Regions from separate parts of the Homo sapiens genome. Here all the other regions are linked to region 3. Evidence: fine-mapped expression QTL. A gene starts in region 3. Each other region holds a variant in brackets. All regions are shown on one strand. Distances are from middle to middle. Region 1 has its middle 80 kb from the start of EHD3. Region 2 overlaps EHD3 (EH domain containing 3). Region 3 holds the start of CAPN14 (calpain 14).

Evidence for each region.
Region 1: its variant is fine-mapped to the expression of CAPN14 in esophagus mucosa (GTEx, PIP above 0.99).
Region 2: its variant is fine-mapped to the expression of CAPN14 in tibial nerve (GTEx, PIP 0.90).

The regions. Positions count from the first base shown.
Region 1 is chr2:31,309,986-31,318,164 of GRCh38, reverse strand. No RefSeq gene overlaps it. Among named protein-coding and RNA genes, the nearest start is that of EHD3, 80 kb to the right of the region's middle. The variant A/G (reference allele first, on the strand shown) is at 3,213.
Region 2 is chr2:31,248,205-31,256,383 of GRCh38, reverse strand. It overlaps EHD3 (EH domain containing 3), which reads right to left. Exons shown (of 6, transcript NM_014600.3): 3 at 6,916-7,013. LOC124905983 (a long non-coding RNA gene) reads left to right here. Exons shown (of 4, transcript XR_007086270.1): 3 at 6,678-7,036. Among named protein-coding and RNA genes, the nearest start is that of EHD3, 18 kb to the right of the region's middle. RefSeq lists enhancers at 1-177, 3,129-3,208, 3,489-3,538, 3,579-3,658. The variant G/A (reference allele first, on the strand shown) is at 3,290.
Region 3 is chr2:31,212,530-31,220,708 of GRCh38, reverse strand. CAPN14 (calpain 14) reads left to right here and starts at 3,194. Exons shown (of 22, transcript NM_001145122.2): 1 at 3,194-3,253. RefSeq lists enhancers at 5,570-6,070, 6,071-6,571.

The sequences.
Region 1 (8,179 bases), 97 kb before region 3:
TACCCCATGGAAGTCTGCAGGATGGCTTGCTGCTGCAGGTAACTCTGGGCAGAAGAGTGGGTTGGCACCCCCTTTAAGCCTGACAAAATTCCTCATGTGAGTTTATGAGTTCCAAATAATAGTAATAAACTCAATAACTCACTAGGTAGGTGTTTGGTAAATGATCTTTTGATGTAAAAATGAAATTGTATAAACATTAAAGGAGGATCAGTGAGTGGCTTATCGGAACCATCCTCCCAGTATTCCCCGGGGTTAAATGTTATACCCTGAGAAGGCTTGACAAGAGCTCTGAATCATCTGAGCTGGTTATTGAAAATGCAGGTTCAGGGCCCCCCTTGCAGAGATTCTGGTTAAATAAATCTAGAGTGAGACCCAAGAATCTGAATTTTAAACAAGCCCTGGAGGTGATTCTGATGCATGTGGTCTGCAGATACAAATTGATGGAAAATGCCCAAAGAGAATGGGGCCCCTCTCTGCCAGGTGTTAAGAGCACCTGCTATTCTGAGCAAATGCTATTCTGAGAGCATTTGCAGGCTGGAGTCTGCCTTTATGAGCTCTGGGTGGGAAGGTAGTTCAGGCTGGTTTATACAGCCACATACAGGGAAGACAGTGAAGAATGCCCAAACATAGGGGGTGCTCTATGCTGGAGAAATGTTTAGTTTAATCCTTGAGTTGCGACAGGTTGGCAGGAACTAAAGATCTCTTAGAGAGGGATGGGCCTGAGGCATGAGAGACGCAGAGGCCAGGTCCAGAGATGCAGCGTGGAAGGGAGGGGACCATGGAGAAGGATAGAAGGACATAGCAGAGGGGATAAAGAGAAAAAAACGCATGTACACATGACACCTATTATAATTATATGTTGAGGGCTTTGCCTGTGTCAGCCCATTCACTCCTCAGCACAGCAGTCTAAGATGGCAATAACATTCGTTTTTTACATGAGGAGACAGTGGCTCCCAAAGGTTAGAATAAGAATGGAAGTCAGAGTTTTATTTCAGGACCATGTGGTTCCTAAGCTCTCACTCTTGATTTTGTGTTTCTTTAGGCAAGTAAATGATGTTTAGCCACTATACCCATCTATATACGTATTCATTATTTCATTCATTCACTCAACATGAATGAGCTCCTGCTAAGTGCCAGGCACTGAGACAGGGGCTGAGGATTGACAGGTGGACAAAAGAGACACTGCCTTAGATCTTAATAGGAAACATGAATATTAAACAGTCAGACACGTAACTATAATTTTGCAAAGAGTTGGAAGAACTGAAAAGGAAAATTGCAGGTTCTGTGAGAAATAAAGCGGGGACCCTTAATTTAGAGTGGAGGGTCAGAAAAGGCCTCTATGGAATGTTGGACTTGAAGGATGGGTAGGAATTAGCTAAGCTCAAGTGTGGGGAAAAATGTCCCAGAACTGTGCTGTCCAAAAGAACTGTTGTGCTGTCCAATATGGTAACCATCAGCCACATGTGACTAGCAAGCACTTAAAACGTGTCTAGTGTGACTGAGAAATAAATCTTAAGTTTTGTTTAATTTTAATTAATGAAAAAATACATATTTCTTAAAAACCACATGTGGCTAGTGGCATCTGTATTGGACAGCACAGCTCTAGAACAAATGGGAAGTTTAAGCAAAGGACCTGAACTGAAAAAGGGTTTGATGGCTTCCAGAAGCCTAATTTGTGGTGGGTACAGTGGGGAGACTGAGACAGCATGAGGCCTGAAGGGAACAGGGCTCAGAGTGTGCAGACACTTGAAGGAACAGGGCTCAGACTGTGCAGACACTCAAGGGAGCAGGGCTCAGAGCATGCAGGCACTTGCAGGCCTCATGAGGGGTTTTCAATTTTACTGCAGTGGGGAAGTTGTTGAAGGATTTTGAGGAGAAGAGTAACTTGGTCAATTTTTGTTTTAAGATCACTTTTCACTGTAGCAAACGGATCAGAGGGAGCTAAAGTTAGAGAAAGGAAACCAAGGAGTAAATATTGTCATTTCCTAAGAAAGAGATGTTGGTGGCTCAGCTTAAGGTGGATACTGTGGAAATGAAGAGACATGGGTGGATGTGGTATAATTTCTAGATAGAATGGATGGAACACACAGTTTTAAACATACAGAATCCAGTAGCCTAGGCCTGTGTTGTCTAATATGGTAGCCGTTAGCCCCTTGTGGCTCCTTAAATTTAAATTAATTAAAATTAAATGAAATAAGTCTTTCTGCACTGTACCATTCACATTTCAAGTGCTCAAAGGCAACACGTGACCAGTGGCTGCCATTATTGTACAGGGTAGCCTTTAGTGAACATTCCTGTCATTGTAGAAACCTCTACTGGGTAGTGCTAAAGTCACTTGGAGAAATGTTTAAAAATGGATCTAGAAGAGGTCATCAGGTCCAACACCCTCACCGTGGAGGTGACATGCTGGGGGACACTCAGCTGATTCCTGGGTGTTGCTGGAGTGGTGCCTAAACCAGGCTCTCGGGTGGCAACCTTTTCCACCCAAAGCATCAGAAGCATCATGGGCAGAATTGCCTGCTTCCCCAAGGGCTTTGTATCCTGAGAGAAAGGCCCTGCTCCAAGAGCACAGGGCAAAGCAGTTCTCACTCCTCCCCAGGCTTTTATCCAAGAGAGGGGAATGGGAGCAGAGGGGAAGGGCACATGGGTGGAGTAATGAGACCCACTTGTCAGAAGGCTAAACTAAAGCGTTACCAGCGGTGTTTGTCTAAGGAAAGGCTTCTGAAAGGCTCAGGCCTGATTTTGACTCAAACCATTTAATAATTCTATGGCAGCCTGAAAAAGAAAGGCTGAGATAGAAACAACAGAAATACAACCACCATTATTGTTTCCAGCTAACATGGCCTATCACTGGAGGCTCAGAGAACGTGTCTTTAGTTACTTCTGCAGAAAATAATGCATTGCTTTCTGAAAGCCACACACCACCCAGGCCACTCAGTCCATCCCCTCACTCAAGAAACACCACAGAAATGGATTCCAGAGAAATCCGATCAGCATACCCTTGCCACACAAGGCAGGACCCCAAGTGACCCTTGTTGTCTCCAGAAAGCATAAGGAAGAAGAAGAAAAAAAAATCCAAGGTACCAAATCCTCCTGGTGACCTAGTAATCTGGGAACAATTAAGCGAGTTCACAGGAAGTAAGTAAAGCGAGGAAAAAACTTTGTTTTCATCACCTCTGAGTTTCTAGTTAGGGACAGGGCTTGGCTCAGAT[A/G]AGTCAAAAGGAGGGGAGTGGGGAGCTGCTGGAGGAGCAGGCTTGGGGAGGAGAGGAATGCACAGTGGGAGGATACCTTGGTTTGCTAAAGCTGGGACACACTTCACTGTGGGACCATGGGTTGATCTCCACCTCCCCTACCCTGGCAGCTCAGGACTGCAGGACTCAGGGTCACAGGCCCTAGGAGATGACCAGATCCCACCTCAATGGCAGCAGTGGTGCCCTGACTGTCTTCTAGTATTTCTTGTTGCCCTGTGCCCTCTTGGAGTATGGACAGATGACGCATGACTATGCCACCTCCATGTGTCATATCCCTCGGTCAATACTTGAATTTCCATCTCTCACATTTGTATTGTCATTACTCTTGAATAGGATAACAAGGATGGGCTACCATTAGTTGAGTATTGCCTATGTGCTGGGTGCATTGCTAAGGGCTTCATGTGCATTATCTCAATTAAACTTCACAATCACCCTATGGGACTATTGTTATCTCCACTTTACCAGTGAAGAAAATGAGGCTCAGAAAAGTGAATATGATATAGCAATCATTCTCCTGGGTATTTGCCCAATTGAGTTGAAGACTTAGATCCACAAAAAAACCTGCACATGGATGTTTACAGCAGTTTTATTTGTAATTGCCAAAACTTGGAAGCAACCAAGATTTCCTTCAGTAGGCGAATGGATAAATAAACTGGTACATCCAGAGAATGGAGTATTATTCATTACTAAAAGAAAATGAGCTATCAAACCATGAAAAGGCATGGAGGAAGCTTAAATGCATGTCACTAAGTGAAACAGCCAATCTGAAAAGGCTACATATTGTGTAATTCCAACTACATGGCATTATGAAAAAGGCAAAACTATGGAGACAGTAGAAGCATCAGTGGTTATCAGGGGTCTGGGGGCAACAAAGGATGAACAGGTGAAGAACAGAGGATTTTTAGGGCAGTGGAACTACTCAGCATGATGTTGTAATGGTGGATGCATGTCATTATACATTCGTCCAGACCCTTAGAATGTACACCAAGAGTGAACACTAATGCAAAGTATGAACTTTGGGTGATAATGATGGGTCTGTGTAGGTTCATCAATTGTAACTAATGTACCGCTTCAGCATGGGATGTTGACAGTGGAGGAAGCTGGGGTTGGGGGTGATATATGGGAAATCTCTGTACTTCCAACTCAATTTTTTTGGGAACCTAATACTGCTCTAAAAATTAAAGTCTAGCCGGGCACAGTGGCTCATGCCTGTAACCCCAGCACTTTGGGAGGCTGAGGCGGGAGGATTGCTTGAGCCCAGGAGTTTGAGACTGGCCTGGGCAACATAGCAAGACCCTGTCTCTACAAAACTGAAAGATTAGCTGGGCATAGTGGCATGTGCCTGTGTTCCCAGCTACTCAGGAGGCTGAGGTAGGAGGACTACTTGAGCCCAGGAGGTCAAGGCTGCAGTGAGTCATGTTTATGCCACTGCACTCCAGCGTAGGTGATAGAAGGAGACCCTGCCTGAAAAACAAAAAGTCTATATTAAAAATAAAAGCATCAGCATCTGTTCAAGGTCCCCGCACTAGTGACCAGTGTAGCTGGAACCCAAGTGCCGGGCTCTTCAACTTCAGATACTACGTTCTCCACCTTTATGGTGTCCCATATCACTGCAGGCTTTCATACCTCACAAATACTTTTGTTTTTAATTAACCACTTTAGTTCACAGTGATCCTATGATGTCAGCATTAATTCTATTTTCCAGATAAGGAAATAGGCTCAGAGAAGTTAACTAATTCACTCACGTCATGTACTGGGTGGGTAAGTAGCTGAGTCAGAGCTTGAATCTGGGCTGAACTACTCAAATCTCTGTGCTCTTCTCAAATAACACACATCATCCAGACACTCATCTGATTAAGCAGACACACAGTGCTGTCTGAGCTGATTACTGCACCTGCAGTAATCGCCAGGGATAGCGATATGACTCTATCAATATGACCTATCCATATGACTTCTGCTAGACCTTAAGTCATTCCACCAGCTGCTGGCAGTAGTTGGAGCCTATGTAGATGTGGGCCACATCACCACCAAAGCAAGGTGCATGAAAAATGCTTTGTCAGTGGTTCACACCTAGAAAACAGGGGTGTGTGACTAGTGGAGAGAGAAGGAAAGAGGGTGGTAACTGGGTTAGTGTGCTGAAAAACCGATATCCAAGCCCAGCACCTCACTTCTCACCAGAGAAGGCTCAGCTCTTCTACCCACTGAGCCTTCGGATGTGGGGCCATGGGTAGCCAGACCTCCTGGTTATAGGGGAAAGCTTACAGCAGCAATGGTCATGGAGAAGGCCCTTTGGAAACACTGAAGAACATTTAAAACTCCCTTCTCTCGGCTGGGCATGGTGGCTCACGCCTGTAATCCCAGCACTTTGGGAGGCCGAGGCAGGCAGATCACACGGTCAAGAGATCGAGACCATCCTGGCCAACATGGTGAAACCCCATCTCTACTAAAAATACAAAAATGAACTGGGCATGGTGGCACGTGCCTGTAGTCCCAGCTACTCAGGAGGCTGAGGCAGGAGAATCGCTTGAACCTGGGAGGTGGAGGTTGCAGTGAGCTGAGATAGTGCCACTACACTCCAGCCTGGAGAGAGAGCGAGACTCCATCTCAAAAAACAAACAAACAAACACAACAACAACAACAACAACAACAAGAACAAAACTCCCTTCTGTCTCTGTCCTTTCTCTAAAGGCAGTTTGACAATGTCCTTCTTTCCCTCGTAAGTGGAGAACTTGCCTGATTTTAATCCTGGGCACATGCTGGTCTCCTCTCTCCTTCTGGCCCTCTTTCTTCCCCTTGCTTCTAGGCCACATGCCTTTCCTTATTCTCTCCTAGGAAGGGAGGAGATGGAGGGAGCTGCCCATGTTTTCCTTGAGTTTTGGCAAGAGTGTAGGGTTTTAAACCTCAGTGTTAACTAACCACTCCAGAATACTGCAGGAATAAACCAGGAAAGCCAAGAGAACCCACAGACCCTCTGAAGGAAGTGGATTGCCCCTGCAAAACCCGGGAGACAGCCCAAATACTGTGAGTGCCTAAGCTGTGGAGGTGGGAAAGGGGGATCGTCTGCCCCCAAACACATACCCTCACTGGGGAACCTGAGGGTCTAAATTATGGGAGAAGATTCTGACCTTACCTGGAGCTAAGTCAATTTAGAAAGCTGAGCAAAATACAGTGGTAGAGGAAGCAGTGGCAAAAACCCTGTGGGCTCTGAGTCTCCTGGGAAGCTATTTCAGACTTGTCTGACAGGGGTCCTTGGGGAGGGGAGGAACTAAGAAAAGACCACAGGGAGAAGGAAATCTCCAGCTGAACTTTGTAAAAATTCCAACCAAACGCAAAGTTTCCTGGCCAGAACTCAGGGGAGGGCATGAATCTGTTGTGCAGAATCCACAGGTGGGGAAGCACAAAAGCCCTACTTGCTTTTGCAGCTGGGAGGCTTGTAGCCTGGGGCAAGTTCTCAGCCCTGTTCACCTGCTGGCTGGAAACAGACTGTTGCTGTTGATGGGGCTGGGTGGGACACAGTGGGAGTGAGACCCACTTTTTGGGTCATGTGGAAGCTGGTTGAAGAGTGTGACTTCTGGATTTCTCCCACTTCCTTGACCACCTGCATGACATAGCAGAGGCAGCCATAATCCTCCTAGGAACATAACTCCAATGACCTGGGAACCACAGCCCCAACCCCCACAGCAGCTGCAGCAAGACCCACCCAAGGCTCAGACACGTCGAGCCCCACCCCCACCTGATGGTCCTTCCCTATCCACCCTGGTAGCTGAAGACAAAAGGCATATACTCTTGGGTGTTATAGGACCCCCAACCCACCGCCTGATCCTCCCTATACTACCACAGCTGATGCTCTCTTGAAAGCACCACCCCCTGGCAGGAGGCCAACCAGCACAAAAACAGTGCATTAAACAACCCAAACTACGGACCCTCTCAGAGTCCAATTCACCCCCTGCCACCTCCACTGGAGCAGGTGTTGGTACCCACAGCTGAGAGACCGAAAGACAGTTCACATCACAGGACTCAGTGCAGACAACCTGTAGTACCAGCCTGAAGCCTGGTAGACTTGCTGGGTGGATAGATCCAGAAGAGAGATAACAATCGCTACAGCTCGGCTCCCAGAAAGCCACATCCCTAGGAAAAGGGGGAGAGTACTACATCAAGGGAACACCCTGTGGGACAAAATAATCTGAACAGCAGCCTTGAGCCCTAAATCTTCCCTCTGACATAGCATACCAAATGAGAAGGAACCAGAAAAACAATTCTGGTAATATGACAAAACAAGGTTCTTTAACAGCCACCCCCCAACCCCTGCCAAAATCACACTAGCTCACCAGCAATAGATCCAAACCAAGAAAAAATCCCTGATTTACCTGAAAGAGAATTTAGAAGTTCAGTCTTAAGCTAATCAAAAATGCACCAGAGAAAGCTGAAGTCCAATTTAAGGAAATAAAAAAAAATGATACAAGAAATAAGGGGAGAAATCTTCAGTGAAATAACTAGCATAAATAAAAAACAATCACAACTTCAGGAAATAAAGGACGCACTTAGTGAAATGCAAAATGTCCTGAAAAGCCTCAGCAATGGAATCAAACAAGAAGAAAGAACTTCAGAGCTTGAAGACAATGTTTTCAAATTAACCCAATCCAACACAGACAAAGAAAAAAGAATAAGAAAAAATGAACAAACCCTCTAAGAAGTTTGGGATTATGTTAAGCAACCAAACCTAGGAATAACTGAGATTCCTGAGGAAGAAGAGAAATCTAAAAGTTTGGAAAACATATTTGGGGAAATAATTGAGAAAAATTTATTTGGCCTTGCTAGAGACCTAGACATCCAAATACAAGAAGCTCATATAACACCTGGGAAATTCATTACAACAAGATTATCACCTAGGGACATGGTCATCACGTTACCTAAAGTCAAGACAAAGG
Region 2 (8,179 bases), 36 kb before region 3:
GTAATCTCTGGGCCTCAGTTTTATGGTTGAGGAATCAGTGACTCAGTCGTAGGGTTATTGTGAGGATCTAAACAAATCAGAGGATGCAGGTGAAACTGCTGAGCTGTGACCTTGGCTGTTCTCATTGCCCTGCTGTTTTTTGTAAAGCACTCCTTTTAAGCCCTAGTTTCTATGAGATGGGATGTGCTCTGTAGGAGTCACCAGAGGAGCACTGGCCTGGGTGAGTCCACCTCTCGTTTCCGCTTAGCCACTAACTTACTGTGTGTCCTTGGGCAAGAATCTCCCCTCTCTAGTCCTCTGTCTCTTTGCCTGTCAAATCAGGGGATTGAGCTGGACAACCTCCGAGCTTCCTTTCTCGGTTCACAATTCTCTGCATCTGAGACCAGAGGTGTGAGGGTGGGGAGTACAACAGGATGGATGGAGATTAGCTACAAGGGACCCTTTGCAGGCACAGCAAGAGAGAGAGGCTGCAGGCTGCTGTCTTACAGGCCTCGGGGATGCCTGTGTGAAGTCTGCCTCTGCCTGAGGACAGGCCAAGGGCTTCTGGGAACTCTTTCCGTGATTTTATAAGCAGAGGCCTCCTATTTGCTCTGGAAAGCTGCTATCCAATTACAGACTCAGTAATGCCAGAAGCTTCCAGCCAGGTGTGGCTGTGAAGACCATGACCATCAAGCAATGACTCCATGGGTTGCTCTGAAGCTCGACTTCCCTGCTCCTGGCTAACCCCGAGGCTGTGTCATCTGTAGGGTGGATATTTAGTTGTTCACTTGGCCTGGACTTAGGTGCAGATCTAGGAATGGCGGTATCTCAAAGGTATGGACTGGACCCAGTAAGAAAAAGGGTATGGTATAGGATTAGCTTTCTCATTTATTTGGCAAATCTGAACCTCAATTTTCTCAGCTGCAAAATAGGGATAACAAATGACTGAATGAGGGGTCTGTGGTAGAGCTGAATGAGGACTCTGTGGTAGAGCTGTGGCAACAAGATCTGACAGCACAGACTGCCTCAGCAGCTGCGGTGAGTGCTATGGCCAGTGACAGGCCCCCTTCCCCTCTCTGGTCCCAGCGATGGCTCTGAGACCCACAACGGTAGCTCTTGGGCACCTGCGGCAGCCCAAGTGTTCATGAAATATGGACTAGTGAGTCGGGGGAGATTCAAGCCCCAAGAGACAGAGCAGAGAAGCTGCCCTTCCTGGACTTCATAGCACAAGTCTGCTGGCTCTAAGAGGTCTAGTCAGCCAGCTCCGGGCCTGGAGACTGGGCAGCCTGCAGGGATCTATGGTCCCCTCCAACCGGAGGCTCCAGATGACTGGAAAGAAAGCACTTTGAAGTAATGCCAGGCAAGAGGAAATCAATCAGACAAACACAGTAAGGAAAGCCACCCCTTCCTCACCCGCCGGCTTCCATCATGGCCTGGCATGCAGTGCCTGGGCCCTCACAGGGCAGCATACTTCTTCGGGTTTCCAGCCACGTGACCTCATTCGCTCTTCATAATTCTCTGTATCCCAGGAGGTAAGTAGGGCATACACATCTTACAGGACAGGGAATCTGGACACAAAGAGATTAAGGGGCTTGCCCAAGCTCACACAGCCAGGTGGTGGCAAACTCAGGCCTGGAACCCAGCTCCTTGACTTGCAGCCCACATTCTCTTTCTATAACAGCTCACAGCCATGTGAGCCTGAAGCTCAGAGGCTGAGCCCTCAAACCAGGCACTTACTTGCGGTGGGTACATACAAAACCCCATCCCTCCCCAAAAAAATCTCCGTCAAGATTTAAAGGCATTTGAGCAAAAGAGGAATAACAAGGCATCAATTTCCAAAATGTGGGAAGAGTTTGGCTGACAACGGGGAAGAAATGCCACATTAGATGCTTCCCAGAAGTAACGGCAAAGAGCGGCCCGAGCAGATGGTTGGCAAGGCCTTTTGAAGGGCGTCAGGACTCGGCTGCTCTGCCCAGGCACAGGAGCGCCCACACAGGCGTGCCTGTACCGGCACGTAGTCTGGGAAGACCCAGAGGCCTTTAAGTGCAGGCTCTGCTCCAATGAGGGTGCCCTGGATGGGCTAGGAATGTGAGGCTGCAAGGATCAGCCCAGACCTGCCAAGGTCTGAGCCCTAAAGACCCCTAGAGGAAACCTGGAGATGAGAGGTTTGCCCTCATTCCTACCCCCTGTGCTCTTCCGGGGCAGGTGATGATAATGTGCTGAGAAGCCGTGGACCAGGAATAGGAAGACCCGAGTTCCCTAGATGTGTGATCCGGGCAAATTTTCAACCTGCTCTGGCCTTACTGAGCTCACCTGTGCAGAAAGGGGCCTGTGGGGAGGAGCTTCAAGCTGTGCAGTCTGTGATGTGAGCACAAAGCCCCGCCCTGCTTTCCTAAGGTGGCGCCTATGGGGATTTCTAGCTGGGAAGCAGCCAGGAAATGTGGTTCCTAAGCTCAGGACACTCAGCCTTCTGGAGCCCTCCCACTCCTGCTGCATCCTCACTTCTTCCCAGTAATGAGCCAGGCTGGGGCACATCCTGCCACTTCCAGGAACCACCTCCCTGTCTTCCTCCCCTGCCCACCCCAATGCATCTGCATCCAGAGACAAGTGCTGGCCCAGGACCTCCCAGAATCAGCTTCCCGGGCACCCCAGCCTTCTTCCCACAAGACACACCCCGCCCCAGGCCCAGTAGAGGGTCCACACCCTGAGCAAGGACGACCCTTTGCCGCCCTAGTCCAGCCTGGGGCCCGAGTGCTCCTTCCTGTGAAGCCTGAGGTCTTGGAGCCCTGGGAAGCAGCTCACTTTGCAGAACAGGCAGTCTAATATGGCCAGTAGGGGCCTCTGTGCCGACTTGATAACCATGCCCCTTTTTATCTGGTGAGACACAGCCCTGCGCCAGGTATGAGGCTCAGTGAGCAGAAGGTGGGCTGAGTTTCAGGTTCTAGATGCCCTCGTGTAGGACATAGTTGGCAGGACTATCCCAGGGAGGAAGGGTGTCCGGTCCTTGCCTGGGCTGGCTGGAGTAAGGCGAGAAGCACCCAGTCTGCTCTGTGGCCAAACCCAGAGCTCTTGGAGCCCTAGGCAAGAAGCCATGAGAAAGCAAGTTTTGTTCTATGCACACATTTGTGTGTGTGTGTGTGTGTGTGTGTGTGTGTGTGGGAGGGGGTTGCTGTGGGGAAGAGGGGAGTTGTGTATATGCAGGATATGTGTGAGGAGTGTGTATGCATGTGTGGGTGTGGGAGTGGGTGTGTGCGTAAAAGGAGGTATGGGTGGGGGAGGGTGGGGGAGGTGTGCGTCAGTTTAAACTGGA[G/A]CTATGTGTTCTAAGGCCAATTGTGAGAAAGAAAGGGGTTGGGCTCTGCACCCTGGAAACTTTACTCGTTTGGGGTACCACAGATAACTGAGGGTGTCTGACGCCCTTCCCCCAACTGTCCTGGTCTCCTCAGGGTGCTGAGGTCAGCACCGCCCCAGGCGCCAGCAGCCCAGTTCTAGCTCTTGTTTTTAACGCAGGCTGCTTTTGCCAGCAGCTGCATTTACAGTCTGGACTCAGGAAAGCAGAAAACAAACTGGCCTGCAAAGCCACTCCTGGGGCCATCATTTCTCCCAGAGGTAGGGGGACCTGGTGCTTAGTCAATGTGGGATGGGAGGCATTAGGAAGTGCAGGCAAGAACACCAAGGGCCTAATTTGCTTAAGGCAGTCACTGGGGTCCAAAGACAAAGGCAGGAGAGAGGTAGTGAAACCCCGTCTCTACTAAAAATACAAAAATTAGCTGGGTGTGGTGGCGCATGCCTGTCGTCCCAGCTACTCAGGAGGCTGAGGCAGGAGAATCGCTTGAACTCAGGAGGCAGAGGTTGCAGTGAGCCGAGATTACGCCATTGCAGTCCAGCTTGGTGACAGAGCGAGACTCCGTCTCAAAACAACAACAACAGCAACAACAACAACAACAACAAAAACAGAAATAGGAAAAGAATAGAATAGGATAGGAACTGAGGAAGGCAGGAGTCCCTGGGAACCAGCCTGCCACATACAGGTGCACAGGCTGTGCACTGCACAACTACAAGGGAAACTATTCACACAGATTACTCTGGGATTGTATGATAGGTGGTGCCAACTGACAGGGAGGGAGGGAGGAAGGTAGCTCATGGTGATCCAGACCCAGGGCTATGGCCCGTGTTTTCATATGGTCTATAGACCTCACAAGACGGCTGTGTGGTACATATCATTACCCCTTGTTACACATGGGGACACTGAAAATGTGACCTGTTGAGACACACACAGGTTCTAAAGCCCAGAACTCTGAATTCCTAGTACAGTGTCCTTGGAAACCGCAGAGGCTGGAGTCCTCTCTGGACCCGCTGGTCAGGCTACACTGGCCTTGCAGGTGCACATGTGACGTCCCCCAGGGAGTTCACACTGGGAAGGGGTGGCTTTCCCCAGCCTTCCTGGAGGAGTCCTGAGCTGCCTGAGTGAAACAGCAAATCCCCTTCAGGCTTAAACGCAGGGTAAACCCCAGATGAACCACTTGGGGTTGGGAATAGGTGGGTTAGGAGAAAGGGGGTGCTCCGGCAAACAAACCAAAGCAAGACAGAAAAACCACCCGTGCTGTCCCTCCACAGGGCCCTTAACAGGGAGCCAGGTGCTTACAGCGTGCGTGCTGGCTGGAAGGAGGGAGGCTCAGACATCCCTATTTTCCCAGGCCAGGGGTTCCAGCTCCCTATCACCTCCACCATACAGCCCAGAGATAGGGAGCCAGGAGATCAAGTCTTCCAAGACCCCCTTCCCAGGTGACACTGTGATGTCCCAGAATTCACAGGCCACCAATTACAGGAACTGCTAACACAGTTTCCCAAGTCCCTCCTGACTCAGTTGCTTCATTTCCCCTCTTCTTCCCAGGTCTCACCTCCTAAGCAAAGCAAGAGGTGGTAAGGAGGAAGGGCAGGGCTTTCCTCTCAGGATGTTCAGCCTCCCCACTCCCTCCCACCTGCTACAGGATGAGGACTCCAGGCTGTGTCTTCCCTGGAGGGCTGACTCGGGTTAACCTGGCCCTTGAGCAGGCTGCTGACCTGGAGGGCCTCTCTCACTGTCTTCCCTTTCCACTCCCAGCCATGGCAGCTCACACACAGGCATAGTGTAGCCTCAAAGAGCCGAGCCTGGCCCTGCACCACACACCTGCCCTCATCAGAAGAGAGCTGCTTTCTGCAGAGAGGACACCAAGGCAGCTCACAGGAGCACTGGACAGAAGCCCAGGTCTGGCACTAGTGGCCTGCACCTGGGCCAAGGGCCTGCACCACTTGGGCCTCGTCAATACACAACTGCAGGAGCACTGGCCTGTCACACCATGAGGCTGTGACCTCTCCTCTGAGGGGTCTGGGGTGAGCAGTGCTGGCCTGGGCAGGCCATGCTCTTGCAGAAAGAGCAAAGGTTTCTGGGCCCCACTATTGTGGCACAGACATGGGCAGGGCAGATCTGTGTCCCAGCCAGAGCCACAGAGCACAGAGGGTGAAGGCACATGCAGACAGTCACCTACCTAGGTCCATTCAGGCAAGAGTTCTAGCTGCTTCCCAGAGAACCCCAGCAGTTCAAAGCCCTTCCTTACCCATAGGCTGACTTCTGAGTGCTGATGTGGCTCCAGCCCTGGCAACTAGCTCCAATATTGGGGTGGGCATGGCGTCATCTGATTTTCTTGCCAGAGATACAACACATGGCACAGAGAGGGTAGTGGGCTATACAGGACACTCAGCAAACTGTGCCAGGACAGGCTGGGGGTGGGGGCCCAGAGCAGTTGTTTTTAGCTTTTGATAGCATCTGCCTAGCATTTTAGAGTTAGAAAAAAGAAAACAGGCTGGGTGCGGTGGTTCCCGCCTGTAATCCCCAACACTTTGGGAGGCCAAGGTAGGTGGATTACGAGGTCAGGAGATCGAGACCATTCTGGCCAACATGGTAAAACTCCGTCTCTACTAAAAATACAAAAAATTAGCTGGGTGTGGTGGTGCACGCCTGTAATCCCAGCTACTTGGGAGGCTGAGGCAGGAGAATCGCTTGAACCCGGGAGGCAGAGGTTGCGGTGAGCTGAGATCGTGCCACTGCACTCCAGCCTGGCAACAGACTGAGACTCTGTCTCAAAAAAAAAAAAAAAAAGAAAACAACGATGATGATGATGATCATCTATAATCCCTCATGGTTACTAGGTACTTGCTATGTGCCAACCAGAAAAGGCTTTTTATCTTAAGCATTTCTTTTAATCTTCAAACAACTCTGTAAGATGGATAATACTATTCCCACCCCACCCGCCCCCACCGCCCCACACCATTTTTCAGACAAAGTAACTGAAATAAAGAAACCTGCTGAGGGTCACTGTGCTATGAAGTGGCAGAGGCAGGCTTAGAACCCTGCCAGCCTGACTCCAGAGTTCTGTCTTCTAACCACCATACCAGGCAACCTCCTTTAATGAGCAATTATCCTGTATTTATCTGTAGTGAACAGTTTTTGAAGTGCTTTCACTACCTGGTTCCCTCCTCTTATGACCCAGGGCACTGATACCATTGAGCTGAATTTCTCTGTATGCATTTGGCTGCCCTGCAGAGCTGCAAGCTCCCCAGGAACTTAAGAAGCAAGCCAGGATCAGGGCCATGGAAGGTGCCCCTTGTAGCATGAATAAACCCAACGAGGTAAGACTGATATTGATGTCTTCATTTTACAGATGAGAAGACTGAGGCCAGCTATCTCCTGAGCTACGGTGGACCTGAATTCCCCTCTCCCGACCCCTGCCAACCCCGGCCTAGGACTGCCCCAGGTAAAATGATCCCACACAGCACAGGAGAAGTGCCGGCTCACCAAGGGACAGCATGGCCCTGGGTGCTTCTCTTCTGGTATGTAAGAGACTGAACGTGCCAGAACCATGGAGCCCACAGCCAACACCCCTCAGGCAGGTTGCTTACCCCGGCTGATCCTCTGCTTCTCCCCAGAGAGGATCCCTGGTGTGTCGATGACGCTGATGCTCTCCAGCACAGGGTTAGGTAGCTGGGCACACACGAACCTGCATGGGCAGAGGTAACCTGGGTGAGTACTCGCCCACCTTTCATGACCTAGCCGCATGACTCCAACCACCTGTCTTGTCTCTCTCAGGTGAGCTGCAGGTGCATCCTGAAGGGTTTAGTTCACCATGGACTTGCCCAGTTCAGGGTGTGGCTGACAGCTGACCCGGGGCTGAACCCCAGTCCTCTTGCCTCTCCCCACATCCAGTGTTAAGAGCGCCCTGCACCCGGGTGTGTTTGGTAAAATGCTGTGTGACCAGCAAGCAGGGCTACTCCATAGCGACATTGGGTCTTCATGTGTGATCAAAGCCTGGGTTTAATTCTTATGGCCCCAAGTCCTTAGTTTGTCCTTGGTCAGCTACCTCCTTGCCTTGAGTTACTCCACTTAGCTTGGCCCTCTCTAGGAACCTTAGCTTCTTTAGATAGCCAATGAGAAGACCCCCTGGCTCCTCTTCAAATGAGCCCCTAGGGACTAGCGGGGCAGGAGGGACTTCAAGGGTCTGTCCCAAACCATCACTGCAGAGTCAGGGTCTGGGGAGCCTCCTTCTGATTTGATCCTTGTGGGCCAAGTGGCTGTGCTTCTCTGTTTATGTCCTCATTTGTAAATGGGGTATCATTCAACAGTAACTGAGGCCCTACTCTGTGCAAGATAACAGGCTGGGTGCTATGGCCAGAGGATCACAAGCCTGGCTGGCTTAAAATGGAGACTCCCAGGAGCCAGGCCAGAATCCCAGCCCCAGCCCCAGAAGTGGGTCTCACTCAGGCTCTATGCCTTGAGGAAGCTCCCTGGATGATTGTGAGGCAGCCATGGTTCATGCTTGCCAACTCCTGCTGTTGGGGACACTAAGATATCCAAACCTCGATCCCTGTCTCCAAGGAGCACAGCCTGGTGCAGGACAGGAGGCCAGGAGGCCTGTACATGGACAAGCAGAATACACAGTGCAATGGGACCAGCACCCTGAGAGAAGTCAGATGTAGTGTTTGGAAGATTCAAGGCAGAGAGATGGCTTCCTGGAGGCAGAGGGAGGGCTTCCTGGAGGAGGAGGCACTGGAGCTGGCCTCGAAGAATGGGAACCACCCAGGAACATTTATTTGGGCATTTAAAGGCCAAATATCTCTATTAGGAAAGCAGTCAAGTGTTATTTAAGAGAAGCGAGGGAAGGGGAGC
Region 3 (8,179 bases):
TACAGATGTGTGCCACCACACCCAGCTAATTTGTGCAGTTTTAGTAGAGTTGGGGTTTCACCATGTTGGTCAGGCTGTTGGTCATGTTGGTCTCCTGACCTCGTGATCCGCCTGCCTCGGCCTCCCAAAGTGTTGGGATTACAGGCGTGAGCCACCATGCCTGGCCGTCAGTTAGTTTTATGAAGCTTTGGTGCTGCTGCAGCCACCACAGCCTGACATCCCCTGTCTGTGGGGCTGCCAGAAGTAACCCTGGCCAGGGTAATGCTACCCCATGACTTTCTCGCTTTACTCTTATGTTGGCAAAGGGAGAATCAATGGTTAGAGCTTAGCCATAGGCATTTCAGTAGTTTTTCTTATTTACAGTTGTGTTGGATACAAAACAGTTTTACTTGTTCCTTAACGTGAGTCTAATGAAACCCCATAAATAACCTGTGTGCCCATGAAGGGTCACCTTGGAGCAGTCATTATTTACTATCTCAGTACTCTATTTTATTCCTCAACTGGATTTTTTTACTTCTTATTTCAGTGCCCCAAATTCCAACAATCAGGGATTCATTTGGAAAAGGAGTTCTCTATTTTAAAAAATGCAAATATTATGGTGAGGTTAAGGACTTGGAAGCTATTCACACAGTAGTGAGACATCAGGAATTCAATTTGATTGCTTTCCCGTGCCCTGAAGGAATGAGAATTTTGATTAGAGGGAAAGGAAGGAGAAACTTTAGAGAGCAATTAGGTTTGTGGGAGAGGCAGATTATTTAGGGCACTTGGACTCTTCTAGAAGAAGTGGGAAGTAGGACATTAGAAGGTGCCACAGACGCATTTGACCTCCTTTGAATGTTTGCTCAAGGCTGGTCCCAAACAGAATCATAATATGTTGTAACAGAAAGTAGAGAGATGACGAGCACAACTGTGTTTCACATGATTGAGTCCCAGAAAGAGGAAATGGCTTGCCCAGCTTCACAAAGTTAGTGAACCTACATCTGTGTTTCTGACTTTCAAGCCAACCCTCATTCTCCAATACTCCACTGTGCCACCAGCCGAGGAATGCATTTCCCTCTTCTTTGCCTCCAGGACTTAGAACTCTAGCAAGTGCTCCGGTTCTACTGCTCCTGAGCTTGTGAAGCCCATCAAAGCCTTTCTGGGAAAGGCTTCACCACTCCTAAAATCTTGTTTCCACGGGAAAGTAAATTTCTGGTCATAAATCACAAACTTGCCAACCCACTTCTGGTCCACAGCCCACTGTGGGTCAGGATTGCCTGTGCCTTGCAGAGACAGAAGGCTCATCACCAGATGCACTTGCCTTCACTGCCTTTTTCTCAGGCATACTAGTCTGTCCTGGGTGACAGTCGGAAGCCTGGGGAAGGGATGTATGACCTCTGAGATGTTAAAAGGCCACAGTGCTGCTGTGCAAGGCTCCCCGGCCATCTGTTTCCTGTCACCCAGGACAATAACTTTCAAGAGTTGTCACGGGAGGAAATGGCCCTTGGGCCTTACCCTATGCGTCTCGGTGGCTCTGTGAATCCGCAGCACAATTTATGGTAAGCCCAGTGGTGACCATAACAACAACTTAGACATAGAGTGAGCCTAACCCTGTGCCAGGTGCAGGGTGCTGTCCCAAGGGATGAGCGGAAGCCCCCCACCTGGAGTCCCTGAAAAGATGATGAATAGAAGGGGGAAGATAACTAAGGGCCAGGATGAGGAGATGAAAATGAAAAGGTTATGTCTGGGAGATAGATAATAATAATAATGGTCTTCCCAGATCCACTGCTTCTGCTATCCTCATAACACCTTCAGACCCATGCGAGGAAGGGTGGCTATTTGGCACATGAGGCAGGGGGAAGGCTCCAAAGAGCGTTTAGCTCAGGAAGAAAGCTTTGGATTTGATTTGACAGTGGCAGGGAGACAATTCCTTGACAAAGATGAGGAGAAGTTAGTGGAACCTGACACCCTGGGACTTTAGCCCCATCTCTGCTGTTTACTGGCTGCGGTTATCTTGGGCGAGTTGCCATGCTGTGCCTCCGTTTTCTTTTTGTAGAATGTGGATAATAATAGCACTACCTCACAAAGTTGTGAAGATTCCATGAGATTCTGCATGCAATGTGCTTAGCATTGTGCTTGGCATGTCATAAGTGCTCAAAACGTGTTGGCTATTATTATCAATATTAGTTAATTTATCAGTACTAATAAAATGGGTGGAGTGATAATCACACAAAATGATTGAGTTGGAGAGATTAGAGTCAAGGCAGAGGCCAAGAAGCAGGCGGGGAGGAAGAGGACAGAGGATTTCCACAGGCAAGGGACTCTGATTCCACTGACACATATTGAGCACCTCCTGGGTACTAGGCATGGTTCTGGGTTCTGGGGATCCTAGGTGTGCAAGCGTGGAGGCAGGCAAGCTGGAACCAACTAAGCTGCTATGATGGAAATCTGTGCAAGTGGTGGTGGGAACCTAGGAGAAGGATTTGGGGGTGGGGGTGGGGAGGGAGTGAAGAAGTCTAGAGCAACCACAGGAGGGCTAAGAAATGCTTTAAGGGAAGAACAACCAGATTTGGAGCAACGGGACCCAAGGTGAACTGTGAGGAGACAACCAGTGGGAGGTCAATGTTCTGAGTCCCAGATGGCCAAAATGGGGGATTTGGAAAGTAGGTTGGGAAGGAAGAGGGAGCGATCTCAATAGCACAAATGAATCACAGATTTCCTCCTTAGCAGGAAACATCCCTGAGGGCTGCCTCAGACTCTGACAACCATAAAAGAAAACCCACAGCCACCTCTTGAAAATACTTTCCAGGCTTCTGTCAATGTTAGTTTAAACATAGGGATGTACAGGAATCTCTGTCTTGGTTCTTTGGTGTCCTGGGAGTTGTGGGGAGGTGAGCAAGCAGTATCATGTGCTCCTGCAGTGAAATGCTTTTCTAGGTCACACCTGAAAGTACCCTCCCCAGGGTTGGAAGTGAGAAGATGACTAACTCTCTCTCATTAAGGCATTACTGAAACAGGCTTTCTCTGTATGGTGTTCTAAAGAAATAATTGGATTTGTGTAATCCAGTCGCAAAGCCCTGGGTACTCCACTCCCTTCCAGAGAACACACAGTGGGGAGGAACCAAGGTCCTGGGAGGTGGGGTCGCAAATTCTTGGCTAAACACCATGTGTAGAAAGGACCCATATATAAGAGGTGGTTTCAGGCTGCATGCTTCTGACTGCACCGGGATTAGAGCTTGCCCAGGCGCTTAAAGAAGCAAAATCTCCTGTGCAGGTAAATTTCTTTAGTTCCAAGGGTGGGTCCAAGTTAGCCCAGAGGCCCTATGAGACTCTACAGGGTCTGGGTTTAGAAGGTGAGAGGATGGTATTTGCTTCTCCTGGTTTGAGCTTTGCAGGTGAGTGTATACAGAAAAAACCCTGGAGTCTGGAGATTTCAATTTTGTCCTCAGTTTTGCCATCACTTATTAGTGTGACCTTGAGGAATAGACTTCAGCCCTTTGGCCCCAATCTCCTCATTTAAAAAAAAAGATGGGAGTATCTTTGGGCCTGGGTAATTTCTGAGGTCCCTCCAGCTCTGGTTTCTCTCGAAGTCATTTGGTAGAGTTACTGATGCTGCTAGGTGCTGTCATTTCCCAGAACATAGGCCATCCCAGTTGTCTCCTGAGCCTCCTGATGAGAAGGAATCTGGGGGCAGCCAGCTTATCACTGAGGCCTTATGGGATCCTCAGAGTCAAGGAGGCCGACTGTTCTCTGTTCTGATAAGCAGTGAGGCTGGGCTGACTTCCTGTATGAAATTAGATGTGAAAAACACACTGGGACGGTGACCACACTATAAGAGTGAAATATTGCCTCAAATGATAGCTGTCAGTGTGGTGCTTGGCACGGCCCTTGCCTAGATTAGAAATCTCGAAATTGCCCTTGTCTGAGTGGTCTGCTGGCCTATGGGCACTGGAAATCACTCCTCAAAGCTCTGGAGGACTCCAGAGCGAGGTAGTCGGCTCTCAGTTCAGCTTATAACCCTCTCCTATGGAGGCACAGGGTGACAATGTTTTGGTGGGTGGTACCTAAGTGTTTCAGCCTGGGTACATCTTCCAGGCCTGATAGGGTGAGGGGTGTCTTTGACTTTCTAGGGGGAGAATTCTTGGATGAGTTAGGTACTGGCCATTTCACAGAGTGGGCACCTCATGCTGAAGAGTGAGGGCCCTTTCTAGAGTGTGAGCCTGGTCGTTGGACTGTGACTTCCTCGAGGGCAGAAATTCTGTCTAATCCATCCTGTACCCCTACCATCTAGGGCAATGCCTGGCCCATGGGGAAGCATGCAATAAAGCCTTGTTTAAATGAATTGATTCTCCCACTTTTCAAACTCCCTTGTAAATCTCTCTCCTGACCATCAAAACAAGCAGTAGAAAAGGAATGGAATTGATGTAACTATCAGTGGTATAATTGGTTTGGTGATAGATCGCTCGACCTCAAGGGTAACCACTAAGCTAATTTCTAACATATAGATTGGTTTTGTCACTTTTGAAAGTTATGTAAATGGAATCAAAGAGTTTTTGTGTCTGGATTTTTTCTACTTAATATTGTTTGTGAATCTCATCATATTGCAGCATGTAATTCTTGTTTGTTCAGAGCTGTGAAGTATTTCATTGTATAAATGGTTATCACTATTATTAATATTTATCCATGTTCATGGACATTTGGGTAGTTTTCATTTGGGGATATTTTGCATATTTCTGTTGTGAGTATTCTTGTACATGTCTTTTGGTGCATAGATTTAAGCATTTCTGTTGGGTAATAACCAGGAATGGAATTGTATCATATAGTTTGTATGTGTTTAGCTATAGTATTTACTGTCAAATAGTTTCTTTTTTTTTTTTTTTTCTTTTTTAAGATGTTTCTAATTGACTTACTTTTTCCAAAAGTTTGCCTGGGTTTTTAACTGCATACTTTGATCTTCTGGAGTAGCGTTAATCAGAGCCTAAAATGACCGGCCAAGTCTTCCAGCCCAGGAGTGGGCTTGGGAGAGGAGGGGGCTGTTAACCAGCATTCTCTCCCCAGTTCATGAGTGTGAGTGAAGGGCAGGAAAGCCCCACAAGGAGAAGACAAGAGGTTTCCAGGGAAGGCTCTGGAGAGGAGGGACATTTGCCCTGAGCTTTGAAGGATGAGGGAGATTTGAGGTAGAGGGGGTCAGGAGGAAGCGACATCTCCTTTGTAAGTTTGGACAGAGCAGAGGGTGTGTGGTGGGGGTTTGTGTACACAGAAAGGAACTAACACACCAAGAGCCTGGCCATTTGGACTTGAGGCCATGAGCTGTGTGGTTTTGAGGGCGTGACGTGAAATGGCCAGTCCTATGGCAAATGCAGGATCAGAGGAGGAGATGAGCTACCTCAGTCTGACCGCTCATCTAGCTCAAATTCCATGACTCTCTGAAGATGCAAATGCCCCTGCAAAAAAAAAAAGGAATGAATTTACATCTGCTTTAAAAGTCTTTCCTGTCCAAATGTGTTGTCAAATGTTCAGAATCATTTGATATTTTGTTTTAAAAAATCAGAAGGATTGGCTCTTTAAAAGCGTGGGAATGGATAGAAAAAGAAGAGTAGGGGATGACTCTCAGACTAGGGTGCCGCTACCTCTTGGGGTTGAAAGTGTCAGAGCAGGGCAGCTGGAGGGGAACAGAGTGACTCCACTGAAGTCATAGTTTAGGAGGAGGCTGTACAAAGAGGGTGTGCCTGTGCCGGAGAGAAGAGATGATGCCCCAGGGCTCCCCCAACAGTCAGGCCAAGCAGGCCATGACTCCCTGGAACTGCTCAGAGGTCCTGTCAGTACATGGGGGCACTGAATTGGATGACCACTAAGTTCCTTCTAGCCTCATATTTGGTTCAGCTGCAATGAGCGACGCCAGGGTGCAACTTCCACAAAGGCCGAGCGGATGTTCCTTTGCTCAGGGAAAGCTGTGTCCAGGTCGTGGCAACTCAAGGTGTACACCCATGCTCCAGGGAGTCTTATTCTCTGCAAAGATTTGTGACTATGCAGTGTCTCATAAAGTCAAATGGAAGTGGGGCAGCTGGGGGTGAGTAGGGAGCTCCAACAGCCAAGTTCTTAGACCTCCATAGAGGCATGCAGTCAGCCCAGGGGACGCCTACCCCAGCATTGCCAGTTAAGGGACTTCCTGCCGCTTCTCCCCCACCTTCTCCCAAGGTGCATGTTCCCTTTGGAGACTTGTTTTTTCTTTTAGGTCTGACCTTGGTTTTACTTCCCCAGGTTGCTTTGACGTGGATCCCACATACCACCCAGGAAAGGAGCCCTAAGGCAAGCCTGGATGAGCATTTTGGAGGGGAAGGATGTTAAAGAGGCTCCCTCAACCTAAATCAGGCCCCAGCAATGTGATCAGACACCAGAGGAGCAGCCAAGTGATTGACAGTTCACAGGAAGTTTTTAACTTCCTTTATCTCAGTTCAGCTTCATAAGAGGGGAGGGGAGGGCACGCTTTATTGTTCTTTACATTTTCCAAGTGAAGAAACATCCATCCCTTCTGTCAGTGAGTCAATTGGCCAGCATTTATCAAGCATCTGTTTATTCATGGTATTATGTGACTATATCATGAATGATCACATCTGGGAATACAGATTTTAAAAAGCCTATACCATTCTCGCCTTCAAGAACTCATAGTTGGGCCACATTCATCATTGTTTACTGAAAGGCAAATGTCTGCTCTAATAAATGAAGAATCATGCTTGGGGTTTTCTGTTAGAAACTTGATCTAAATGCAGACAGATGTCTAAACAGTAAAAGAAAAACAATTTAAAGCCTTTCAAACCATTAACATTACAAAATCATTTCATCTTTTATGAACAGGTCATGATATGTACATAGAGATGCTGTTTTCCTGTTCGTAATCAGTAACCACAGAACCACCTGAAAACTGCCCAGGAATGTCTGATGTTATCACATCTAAATAAGGGATTAGATGTGAAACTTTAGCAGAGAGAAACTGCAGGCCACATTTGCAAGTGTTTTGAGACATGATTGTAACTGTAAATGTTAAGGGTCTATTAAAAAGTCAACGAATCAATTAGAGATAAAATTGTTTCATTAAGATAAATTCTTAATGATGGATTCAACCAACCACATTTTAATCTGTGAGTTCCTACTTGGAGCTTACCCCTGTGCCTAGCCCTGCAACAGCAATCTACCTGGTTAAACAGTGCTTTAGAGCAGTGCTCAGCAAACTTTGCCTATGAAGGACAGCATAGTAAATATTTTAGGCTTGTGGCCCCTAAGAACTCCGTGGCAATGACTCAACTCCGCTGTTGTAATGCGAAAGCAGCCACGGACAATACCAGACAGATAAGTGTGGCTGTAGTTTCAGTAAAACTTTATTTATCCAGGCTGTAGTTTGCCAACTCCTACTTTAGACTTTTGTCAAGTCTTTTCACACGATTATCTCTTTTGAGTTCTGAGAGTAGGCACAGTACATGTCATCCCATATTGAGGGTGAGGAAGCCAGCTCAGAGAGGATAAAGGAGTCAGCACACGGGCACATGGGGAAGAGGTGGCAAACTCACTTGCCTTCTGGGTTTTCCAATCCCAAACCCAGCACTCCATGGCCACTGCACACCACCTATTACACAAAAGAAGTACAATCCCTGCTCAAGATAAATCAGGCAAAGCCTATAGTTAGTCTTGTTCTTTTGTTCCGACTGTCGAGAGCAGGGAATTGATCATTTTTCAATCTGGTGCTTTTTATCATGTAGACAGAGTCTTGTACAAAGAGCCTAGGTTTCTACTACAATTTTGCCTGAGACAACTTAGTGGGTTGTGGCAAGATGCCAGAGTTCTCTGGAAATCCATCATCCCCCAGGAGGATTCTACAGGTTCATGTGAGTGAGTGCATGGTACTTATTTCTTTTGCTTCCGTTCCAGAGACCTGACTCTACCCTGTAGGTTGATCAAAGGCCAGGTGTTACATTCCCAGTCTGAGACATAGTGTCTAGCACATAGTAGGTGTTCAGTAAATGTGTGAATGAACTGAACATCAGGGCAGGGACTCAAGACACTGAATGGACCCCTGGGAATTAGTTCCTATTTTTGCACTCTGGTGAAATTCCTGGGAAATTCCTTTCTATTTCTTAGGATCTCAGTTTTTCCCACTTTAAAATGGAGCCCAGAATTCTCAACTGCTTCAGAGATGGTTGAAAAA